Regions from separate parts of the Homo sapiens genome. Here region 1 is linked to region 2. The links come from fine-mapping of genetic effects on gene expression. A gene starts in region 2. The other region holds a variant in brackets. All regions are shown on one strand. Distances are from middle to middle. Region 1 overlaps MS4A6E (membrane spanning 4-domains A6E). Region 2 holds the start of MS4A4A (membrane spanning 4-domains A4A).

Region 1 (5,391 bases), 59 kb before region 2:
TAAAAGTTGAATGTCCACAATAGGCAAATAAATAAAAGAAATGGTGTGTGTCAGTGGGGGGTGCAAAGGACAGGGAGAAGACCTAATGAAACAGATTTGAAGATAAAGCTAAAATCAAAGAAACTGACAGTTCCATTTGAGACTGGAAAAAAAGAGCAGAGAAACTCTCTGAGTATCAGGATATCTGAGACAGTGAGTATGAAGTATGACCCCTGCTACAGAGGGTCAGAGCAAGGAAATATGACAAAATCTTTCAAAGAAATGGAGGTCATATAAAATTGAAATACTTTTTTACACGTGTGTGTGTGTGTGTGCGTGTGTGTGCATGAGCAAGGTGAGGCTTATGTTTGTTATACTCAAACAATTCGTCTTTTTTATTTTGAAATAAGGACGTAAGTATGAACTGGTTGTCTCTTCATAACAGATAAGCATTCCTGGTTAGCATTTGTTCACTCGTTAGTTTTGTTTGAATATTGGTGAGGAGAAAATTGAGTTAAAATTTGGGTTTATGTCTGTCATTGTTGATTTATTCTGTGTTTAAAGGAAAAAATAACAAAATAAGTATTAAAATAAAGTATGCACTCAAAGATTTTATTTTGAAGCCGGCTACTTTCATACACTCGGAGACTTCATTATGGGGTTTGCCTTTATGCACTAATGAGTAAAATACATGGGATAAATCAGTAGCACCTGTGATAAAAGAGTCTGCGCACCACAGCAAATCAGTTAACTCCTGTTCACAATTGAGGAGTATAAGAAAAAGCTGTATCCTTTGCCTCACTGTGATCCATTGAATCATCATTCTGCCTAGTTTTCTGGGAAATGTCTAAGACTATTTGGCTAGTCTAGTAAATGGTAATTTACAGCCCTGTGCTTTTGCTGAAGTCAGTATCAGGCAAACCAAGAGATCCCCAATGAACACATATCATAAATGACAGCGAAATAATTTTTTAAAACAAATATGCATTACTTTAAATGCTTACATTTAGGAAACTCAAGTTTGCTTTTTTATAATGGTTAGGTTTTCCATATTATCATAAAAATCAACTTTCCAATTAATATTTCTCCGTTTTTTCCCAAGAAGTCAATAGTTCTTCATATCCAGCATCATGAGTCGTCTTTGAGGACATGAGTAACTGTGAGGCAGGAAAAGCACACTTTAGAAGAAACAAAGTATGTTAGGTCTTCAGACTTTACTCAGGTTCAAGATACATGTGGATATGCCATTTTTTCCAACTGTATACATAGAATTCTTAGCTAATCCAAGACAAGTAGAGCAGATCACTGGGTTCTTCAAATAATTACAATTTATCAGTCTAGTATTCTTCTATTCTCTATAATAAAATTCTGGATAAATCAAGGCTTTTAAATTCAGTTAAATAAAGCAATAAGTCCATAGGGGTGGTATCCCTTGGAATTTGATTCAACAATACATTTTTAATATATCTTTTAAAAGGAAAAAGAATTTTAAAATCACCAGGAGGAAAAGCAGAGCATAAGACATTCACTGGATCCAGTCACATGTGTAAAGGCCCTTTACCAAGTCAATACTATTAAAGAGACTAGTGGTTGTGGCAGAAATTGTTTCTGCTTAGAAGGGAGGCAAGCCAGGTTCTAGCGTCCTCAGCACAGGTACAGACTCATATCATAATGCCAGCCCAGTCATTTAACTTCCCAGAGTCTCATTCCCTTCAATGACAAAATGGGAAGATTGAACCAGTTGATTTCTCATTTTAACTATTTTCATATCCAGTGAACTCTCAGCTTGTCAGCTACTCAATTACCATCTGCTTTTCTTCTCGGTCTTCCATCACCATTTAAATGACCTCCCATGTGTATCTCATGACTGACTGATTGTTCCTTCTACCACTCTTGGTGACATACTCAACACAGTGCAGAGATAAGATACACTAGGCAAGATTAAGCGAGGCTGGCCAGCACACTCACCCAGGGAAGTCAGACAGTCTGTTTCCACTGCAGCACAGCAGTGAGCACAGCTAGGCAGAACTCCAACACAGTAGAAACCAGCATCAGAGACAGAGTTCCCTGAAAGTCAAGAAATAAAATATCAGTGATGCTTGGGTCAGCCGAAGCTTTCATGCCTAGTTTAGAGGTGACCATAGAGATGAAGACCACCTCAACCATTAGAGAATGAAGTAAGGAAACAATCAGGAAAACAAAACTGCTCCTCCTCACAATTGTCTTAATTCAACTCCTTCACTCATTCAGTTTCTTGAGAAGAGAAGGGAAGATGAGTAGTAACTAAATCAACTAATCCATTTCATACACTTGTTTCTCACTTCTTTGAGACGTACGTAGTTCTGATGACATTGTTCACTCAGTAAGAGAGCAGAGTGGCGTAATAGCTCCCAGGACTGAGAATCAGCAGCTCCATTATAGTCTCATCTTTACTGCTGAGTAGCTGTGTAAGCCTGGACAAGTCTCTTTCTTTCTCTAGCTCCTGTTTCCTCATGTATCAAACATGCATACTAACATTTATTTCTCAGAGATTTGTGAGGATCAAGGAGGTTTTGGCTGTGTAAGCCCTTTGTAAAATTCAGTATTGACATCCCTGTCTATGTATCTGAACCTGTTTGGATGTTTTTTATTTTTGTTGTTTATTTTTTATTTTTGCTGTTTTTGGTGTTTTAAGACTTGGAAAAAAACAGTGAAGGTAGTAAACTGTTGCTAATCACCAACACCAACTCACAAGGATGAGTTCTACCATTTCTGTCCTGAGACATTCTTTGTGCAGAACTGGTCATCTGATAATAAAGGG[A/G]GGTAATTTGATCACATGAACTTTTGTTTTGTGGTATTTACACACAGTTAAATAGAAGATACATGTTGTGTCCATTACCTAGAAATTGTTCCAGCAAGCAAGCTCAACAGAATCTCTCTTATTTCCAATATAAAATCGTCCCATCATGAATTTATACTTTATCACTACCAAATTTCTCCCAAATTTCTCTCCAGAATTTTTCCCAAGGTGGAATTTGTACCAATTACTGTCAGCCTCATTTGCATGCACTTTTTCCTCATTATACCATTACCTTGGAAGCAAGGCTCAGTTTATAATGGGTGCTGTACAAGCATGAATTTGACCAGACCTTTCTATCTGTCCATCGTCCAGGTGAGTTCTTGGCTGACCTCATTTTTATGATTGCAGGACAATAAATATTCTGCAACTTCTTTACTTTTATGTTGCCTGTTTTCCTCTCAATGCGTTGCTGGCCATGCACATACCCCTTAATTTTTCAACTTCAGACACATTATTTCTGTTAGCCAAACTTCATTGTTTTTCTTCTTCCAAAGAGAGAGAATTCTCCTGCGATAATTCTCAGTTACACTCTCCATCTCCCTATATTTCTTATCTCCTGATTTAAGATATCACACTTCTTTCAGCTATAACAAAAAGCAATAATAATGTTACCGTTTCACCTGATTAGTATTATTCATTATTGTAATCATTAGGAGAAACCCTTACCATCTAACCCCATATTTCCTATTCTCTGTTTCTTCATCTTTAGTCTGATGTCTTTTTAGACCAAACTGACCCCCTACCACACACACATACCACATTTCCTTGTCAGCATTTTCTGATCACCCGGGTCTTTCTGCTCTGTTTGCCAATCTGAATTCACCACTCTATGTACCAACATTCTCAGTTTGACAAACTCATAATTTATGCCTCCAAAATTAGATTAGTTGAGTAATTAAGAAACTCTACAAACCGTAAGTTTTAGTTTTTCATCATCAACCTTATCTGACATTTCAATTCCACTCTGTTAGTATGTAATCCCCTTAATCTCATCCATGCAGCCCCCCTTTGATTTACATAACCTTGGCCTTCCTCCAGATGCCCAAACCAGAATTAACAGAGAGATTTTCAAAGGATGGAATAATAAGAAATCAAGGCTTTCAGAAACCTCATAAAATTAGAACATCCCATCTAAAAAATACTTACAGCCAGACTGGCTTTGGCTCTATGGCAGTCCATGGTGTAAGGTGAATGATAATCATAAGAAAGAAGAAGTCTGGTTGGTATATCCTTTTCGTCCAACTTACACTGCAATGAGGCAGGATTTAATGCAGCCGGGTTGACAGACAGGAGAATGAAACCCACCAGGGCAGACAGAGCACTCAGAATGCTTCCAGCCAGGCTGCTATGCACCTGAAAGAGACATGCTGGGTAAGAATCATTCCCAAAGGGCCACGAATCTCTCTTATCCCTTTTTGCCATTACATTGCAAGTTATTCCCTTATCTGTCTCCCTCAGGAAGTCCCGGAGGGATCATTTCTTGTTGTAGGCCTCTCCAGTGTCCAGCCAAAAACTCAGAATCTGCAACGTAAAACTTGGCTGAATGAATGAACATATGAACTGGTTCCCCTCAAACAGGACCTCAGTAGTGTGGTAGAGAATGTTACTCTCCTAAATTCTTTCCCTGGGACAGATAGCAGGGCCCACGAGGCTTGCCTGGAAAATTACTGTGAGTGTGACCACAAGCAAAGGTGGCAATGTACCAGATGCAGTTTCTCTCTCGGCCAACTCAGAAACCCCTCGTGCAAGCATCAACCACACAGAAAATCTGGATGGTGTATTAGCATGGTGCAAAAGTAATTTTGGGTTTTGCCACTACTTTCAATGGCAAAACCGCAATTACCTTTGCACCAACCTAATAGCTCACTTTTGCGTGCCTATTGCCTCTCTCAAAAGCACACCTCTCAAAGATGAGTGAGGGGGTGGTTCTGAGTCTCAGGCAGGCCCTGGAACCTGGGCAGGCATATGACTGGCCACATTGAGCGCAGCATGGGGTGGCTGTGGGCAGAGGTCTAGGTGCGGGCCCAAGGATGGTGTAATGTGTGGGAGGCAGCGGGAGGTACAGAATAAAGGCCTGGACTGGATGTCAGAAAATTGAGGTCACAATATAGACTTGACCCAGCTTGTTCCCTTGGGTACTCAGTTCCTTGGTTTTATTTCCCACTCTGGTTCTCATTTCTACATTTATGAAGTGGAGGAAATAAATAAACTGACCTCAGAAGTGACTTCCTTTACTCCAACTCACACAGAAAAGAGAACTGAGCTCACAGCATTCTGAAAGCTATTGTTACAGGTAGGTAGGCTCCAGGGCACATCCCACAGCCATACAGTAGAGTGTTATTTAATCCCATATGGGCACTTCTTCTTTTAGGAACTCACCAGTTGATGCTCTGGGACCCCAATTTCCCAACATAATGACTGAAGTGTACACTCCTGGGCCTCCTAGTAGCCAGTAGTAGTCTTGATGCCTAGAGTCTATATTTCTTAGAATAAGCTAGATTTGTCTTGAGATGGCACTCTTCTTCAATCTCAAAAAGGGCTGGTACAATGTGTGACAAGAGTAGAACTCACTA
Region 2 (5,391 bases):
TAGCCTCTGAATGTTCCCTGTGTCCATTTGTGGCTTTGGATATTCAATCCACCACTGATGTTGTAGCCAGAATGATCAAATACAAAAACAATTGAGTCACCATCCCCTTTAAAAGCCTTCTTTTATATTTCACCACCCTTAGCATAAAGTTAAAATTTTTAATGTTGATAACAAAAGCTCGGCTACTTCAGCACAAATCTATTGTAGTCTTACCTCGAATCTCTCTCCTTTTAATTTTTAAAGCTCCAAGTATATTTGACTTATTTAAGTTGTTCCAAAGACGTAATTTCATTCCTATATTGAGACATCTGCATATATTGAAACCATTTGCAGGAATGTTCCACCCCTCTTGTGACCACCTTGTAAGAACAAAAACAAACCCACCACATCATCTAATCTTCTCACACATGAACAGCATTTTATAGTCTCTATCTTCTCTCAGACACTATTCCCCCACTTCCCCACCATTGCCCACATGTGGATTAGTCAGCCTATGACGGTAAATAAGGGTTTAAGAAATGTGTTATGTTCCTTCTACATTGCAAAAGTCAAAGTTATTTGGAAAGTGACTAAAGATGATTCTTCTTAGTCCATCTAAATGTGTACTTTATTCTTCTTTAATGTAAAAGAACCTCTGCCTCAATCTCTCAGGCACACCTTCAGACTGAGAATTTAGGACATGTTGGGTCTGTCTTATCAAACGCACTGGTGGTTCTCTCTCTGTGTTTAGTGCCTCTCTGGTAAGACTGTAAGCTTCCTCGAGGGCAGAGCAATTATATCAAAATAAAGCTTGTAACTGACTCCTATGCTTTCCCATAATTCTTTGGTAACATAGGTCAGGTTCTGGTCATTCAAGGCTGGTGCTTTGTCATTCTAAGAAACTCTGGCCATAAATTCATATAACTGCCTCCTCTTTTTCCACCACAGAAATCCTTGTGTTAATTATCTACGGCACATGAAGTCCCCAAGAACAAAAACGTGTTTACCATCCAGGGCTTGACTTCTCTATATTCAATTTTTTTTTTAACTGCTGAGAATATTGGATGCATATGAGGGACATTTCTTCCAGGTTGGAGAAGAATTTAAACCTTGGTTTTGCCACATCACCTATATGCATCAGGCTCTTAAGAAATACAATGTCTTTCCCCCACACCCCTGATAAAGAGGTGGGGAAACCCAGACCACCCTTCCCTCTTCTATTGGCCCCAGTCACCTTGTGGATCAGCAGCACCACCAGTCTCTTATTTCCTCATTTTTATGTCACCATCCTCCTCATGGGTCACAATTGCAAGGAGAGAGCATGAGGAGAGTGGTACAAACAGCCATCCGTTTTTCTTGGCAAAGTTGTCAAATAGACTAGAAACCCAAAATGAGGCCTGAATCTGGATGGTTTTAGAAGGATGATGGGGATGCAGAAGTGGTGGCATGGGAAGGGAAAAGGGGGAAAGGCCCGGGCTAGGAACCAAGAATTCTGTTTTTGTTTTTGTTTTTGTTTTTCTCCCAGCCCTTTTGTTAACTTGTGTGATTCTGGGTACATTATTTCCCTTTTATTGGCTTCTTTTACTTCATCTGGGGAAAGATTACAATGGCCACGACCACTTACAAGCTTCTTTCTTATCCTAAGAATGCTAAAAGTCTACAAGGTGTTTTTCATTAGCAGATTTTATCATGAGCAGCCTCAGTTTACTGCCTGGGTGCCCCATGAATAGTGCCAAAGACCACTGGAGAACTAGGTCAGGCCACAGCCCATCTAAATGTACAAGGCTGGGGACCCTGCCTGTGCCCTACTCCATGTACACCAAATTCTGCATGTGATACATCTGTTCTTAAATCCTGAGTTATAAAAATAACCAGTCAGACACAGAGAATAAAGACCACAGAAGAAGGGCATTAACAGTAGATGAGGTAACTAGTCAAAGGTTTAAAATGTTGCTTTCAGTGTTTTGATATCCTGAAGACTCAGGGGACAAAAGTAACTAAACAACCTTATCCAGCCTCCAATGTCAGCCTTTAGGAGGCTTTTCTAACTCCTATCGACTGTAGCAAAAACTGTTCCTCATCCCCCCACCGAATGCACATTTAAAGGTGCACTCAACCCACCCCAACCCTGAATACCAGCTTGGGTCATGGGAAGTGGCCTCATTATTCTTCTCATTCCCCTCCCAGAAATTCTTAACCCAGGAAGTGAAACAAGCCATCAGCCCGAAAGCCTAGGAAGGCAAGTCCCTGGACCTACCTTTCTTCAGGCCTGCAATGTCTGCTGTAGGTCTGATGCATGCAGGGCTCTGGGCAAGTTCCTCAAAGTTCTTTGGTCTAGACCCAATCAACTTCCCCCACTCCACACCTCACTCAGTTTAAATCTGCATTCCTCTTCTAGCAGATGTTTGGAACCTTAAAGGCTGTGCTGAGAATTTCTGAGACGCACAGCTAGTTCCTCTTTTATATCGGAAGCATTAACTGATTTTGTGTTCCCAATATGGGTGTGGATGTCTATTTTGAAATTTGCTGAAAAAGCAGGGGCTGCCTGATACAGTCTTTCCTATGAAAATAATACTGCTAATTACTGTGGATATCAGTGGTAGAGGATTTACTGTATGCCAGACTCTCTTCAAAAGTCGTTATATAAACAAGTAAATGGTATTTTGTAAATACCCCCTTTCACAGGGTCACACATTTCCACAGTACTCTTGTCTTCCTGGAGCACTACTATTACTATTTTATTAGGTTGGTGCAAAAGTAATTGCAGTTTTTGCCATTATTTTATGGCCAAAATCACAATTAACTTTTGCACCAACCTTAATATACACAACTTAAATGTTTTATTTACATGAAATTCCACCTTTAGAGATTCATCAGGAGTGGCCATAAAATGGCAACAAGTTGGTTGTATGGCAATAAAACAACACCTTTCTAAGTGAAGGAAGCAGCTGGTATCATAGAACGAGCTGGTCTTTGACTAAGATCAAACCAATGGCAAACATTTCTTGCATGGCCCTGTTAATCTCCTGAACCTAAGATTCATTTGTAAAATAAAATAATGCCTACTTTACATGGAGGAGGAAAGCAAAGTGGTGTGCAGTTTTCATTCATTCAGCATTTTCTTTAGAAAAACTACTATAAGCCAAGCAGTGTGCCGTGTGCTTCTGAAAAAATGGTAAAAAATAATTTTCACTCAAAGAGTTTATAGACTACTTGGAAAAACAGACCAGTAAATAAATCACTACAATCCATTACTATCAGTTATCTGCAAGGTAAAGTGGCAATACAGATGAGTAAATACATCATTACAACCCATTGTAATCAGTGATCTGCAAGGTAAAGTAGGATATCCTAAGAGAGCTCATAGGAGGATCAATGAACCCAACATTGGGTAGGCAGAGGAGACTTCCTAGATAAGGGGACATCTAATTGGAGACCTGATGAATGAGCAAAAGACACACAAATGGAAAGGGAATGAAGGAAGGTAATATTATTATTTCTATTTTTCAGAAGAAGAAACTGAAACTCAGAGATATTCGTATAGCTGGTATAGATGAGATTGAAATCCAGTTTTACTTAATTCCAAAAACTATGTGGTCTATAATCTGAAATTACGATTCTCAAAATTAAAATAGATTATATTTCAGAAATATTGTCCTGGTTTCAGACAACAGGAATAAATAATAATAAAATCAGAGAATTAGGCTCAAGGTAGAGGCAGTTCTCTAGGGAAGGGATGATGGTTACTGAACTACCTGTGATGCTAGTGAAGTTGGAGAGAATGAATGGATTTGAAAGATGCTTAGGAACAAGAAATGACAGTACTTGTTGGTATAATGGATGTGTAAATCAGGAGAAAAAACAGGAAAGGATGACACTCAGATTCTGGGTTAGGAAACTGAATGAGTGATAGAGCCATTCAGTAAGGCAATAGACATGGACCAGGACAGAACTGCAGGAACAAATAGTAAAATTTTGAACGTATTTGATCAGAGTTGTGTAGGGACCTTCAAATAAAGTTGACAAGAAGTGGATAACTGGCAGGAGCTAGGGAATGAGAACATGGCTATAGAGGTAAACCCAACAGCTCTTCGCCCAGAGGGATGAGGTCACCCAGGCTTGTGGGTGGAGGCAGAAAACGTCAAACCCTTTTTCTAGAGGATAGAGACAGTATAATCAGAAATAAGATTTCCCAGAGGATTATGAAAAAGAGGGTAAGGAAGATAGCAGGCAAACTCGGAAAATGTGGCATTGCAGAAGACAAGGGTACAGAGTTTCATGACTTCCTAAGAGAGGTTGAAATTCTGGACTAAGGACAGGCATCAGTCTCTCCTCCCACTCCATATGGTATGAAATGAGACAGTATCAGGTTATTATTAGCAGATAACAATTTCAAGAGAACAATAACATGAAATTTGACAGAGAAATATATATATTCTATATATATAGAATATATATCCTATTATATATAATAGAATATCTATATATTATATATAATTATATATCATATACAGATATATTATATATAATAGATATAATATATAATATATATTATATAATAGAATATATATTATATTATAATAGAATATATTATATATATAATAGAATGTATCTCTATATAATATGTTATATTATATATTAACAGAGACTGGGTTTCACCATTTTGGCCAGGCTGTTCTCGAACTCCAGATCTCAAGTAATATACCCTCCTCAGCCTCCCAAAGTGCTGGGATTACAGGCGTGAGCCACTGCACCCGGCCTTGAGCTGGATTTTGAATCCTATGCCCTATGTGAGCTGGAGCAAGTTGCTTAGGCTTTCTGCACCTCAGTTTACTCATCTGTAAAATATAGATAGTAATATGTCATAGCGTTGTTGAAAGGGTTATATTAGGTAATATAAATAAATTACTTATCATTTTTTGAGCACAGAAATATTTCAGTAGGAAGAAATCATTCAATTATTATTAAATACTTCAGAGAGACAAGCTAACAACAGTAAAATGTTCACTGGATTTAGCCTGAAAGAAATCATTAGTGCCCCCTTCCCCAGTTCCCAATCAATTTTCTTTCTCCAGAAGCAAGTATTTAAATTTTAATTGTTTCTTTTTGTGTTGACTCCATATTTCTAAGTGAATGATTTTAAATACTGTTCTAATTTTTGGTTTTATATATTATGCACTAACCTCCTACTACTGAAGACAATAGACTAACCCCTATATCCTTCATTTTTACCCTGGACACACCTTCCCACCATAACACTTCCTTTTCCCTCATTCTCCCATATAGTTTTATCACGATTTTTTAGTTAACTCAATTTATAGTATTTAAATCATTAATGGCTAATTCATTATGAGTGTTATGATTACGCTTCCTTTTGACCATTTTTCTCTCTGAAGTTAGTAACTGCCTCAT

The links. PIP is the estimated chance that this variant, and not a neighbour inherited with it, causes the effect.
Region 1: its variant is the best candidate, but not a certain one, in a credible set for the expression of MS4A4A in whole blood (TOPMed, PIP 0.50).

The regions. Positions count from the first base shown.
Region 1 is chr11:60,336,521-60,341,911 of GRCh38, reverse strand. It overlaps MS4A6E (membrane spanning 4-domains A6E), which reads right to left. Exons shown (of 5, transcript NM_139249.4): 3 at 3,965-4,171; 4 at 1,948-2,046; 5 at 571-1,136. The coding sequence ends at 1,957. Among named protein-coding and RNA genes, the nearest start is that of MS4A6E, 12 kb to the right of the region's middle. The variant A/G (reference allele first, on the strand shown) is at 2,780.
Region 2 is chr11:60,277,562-60,282,952 of GRCh38, reverse strand. MS4A4A (membrane spanning 4-domains A4A) reads right to left here and starts at 2,287. Exons shown (of 7, transcript NM_148975.3): 1 at 2,237-2,287. The coding sequence starts at 2,277. RefSeq lists a silencer at 2,353-2,402.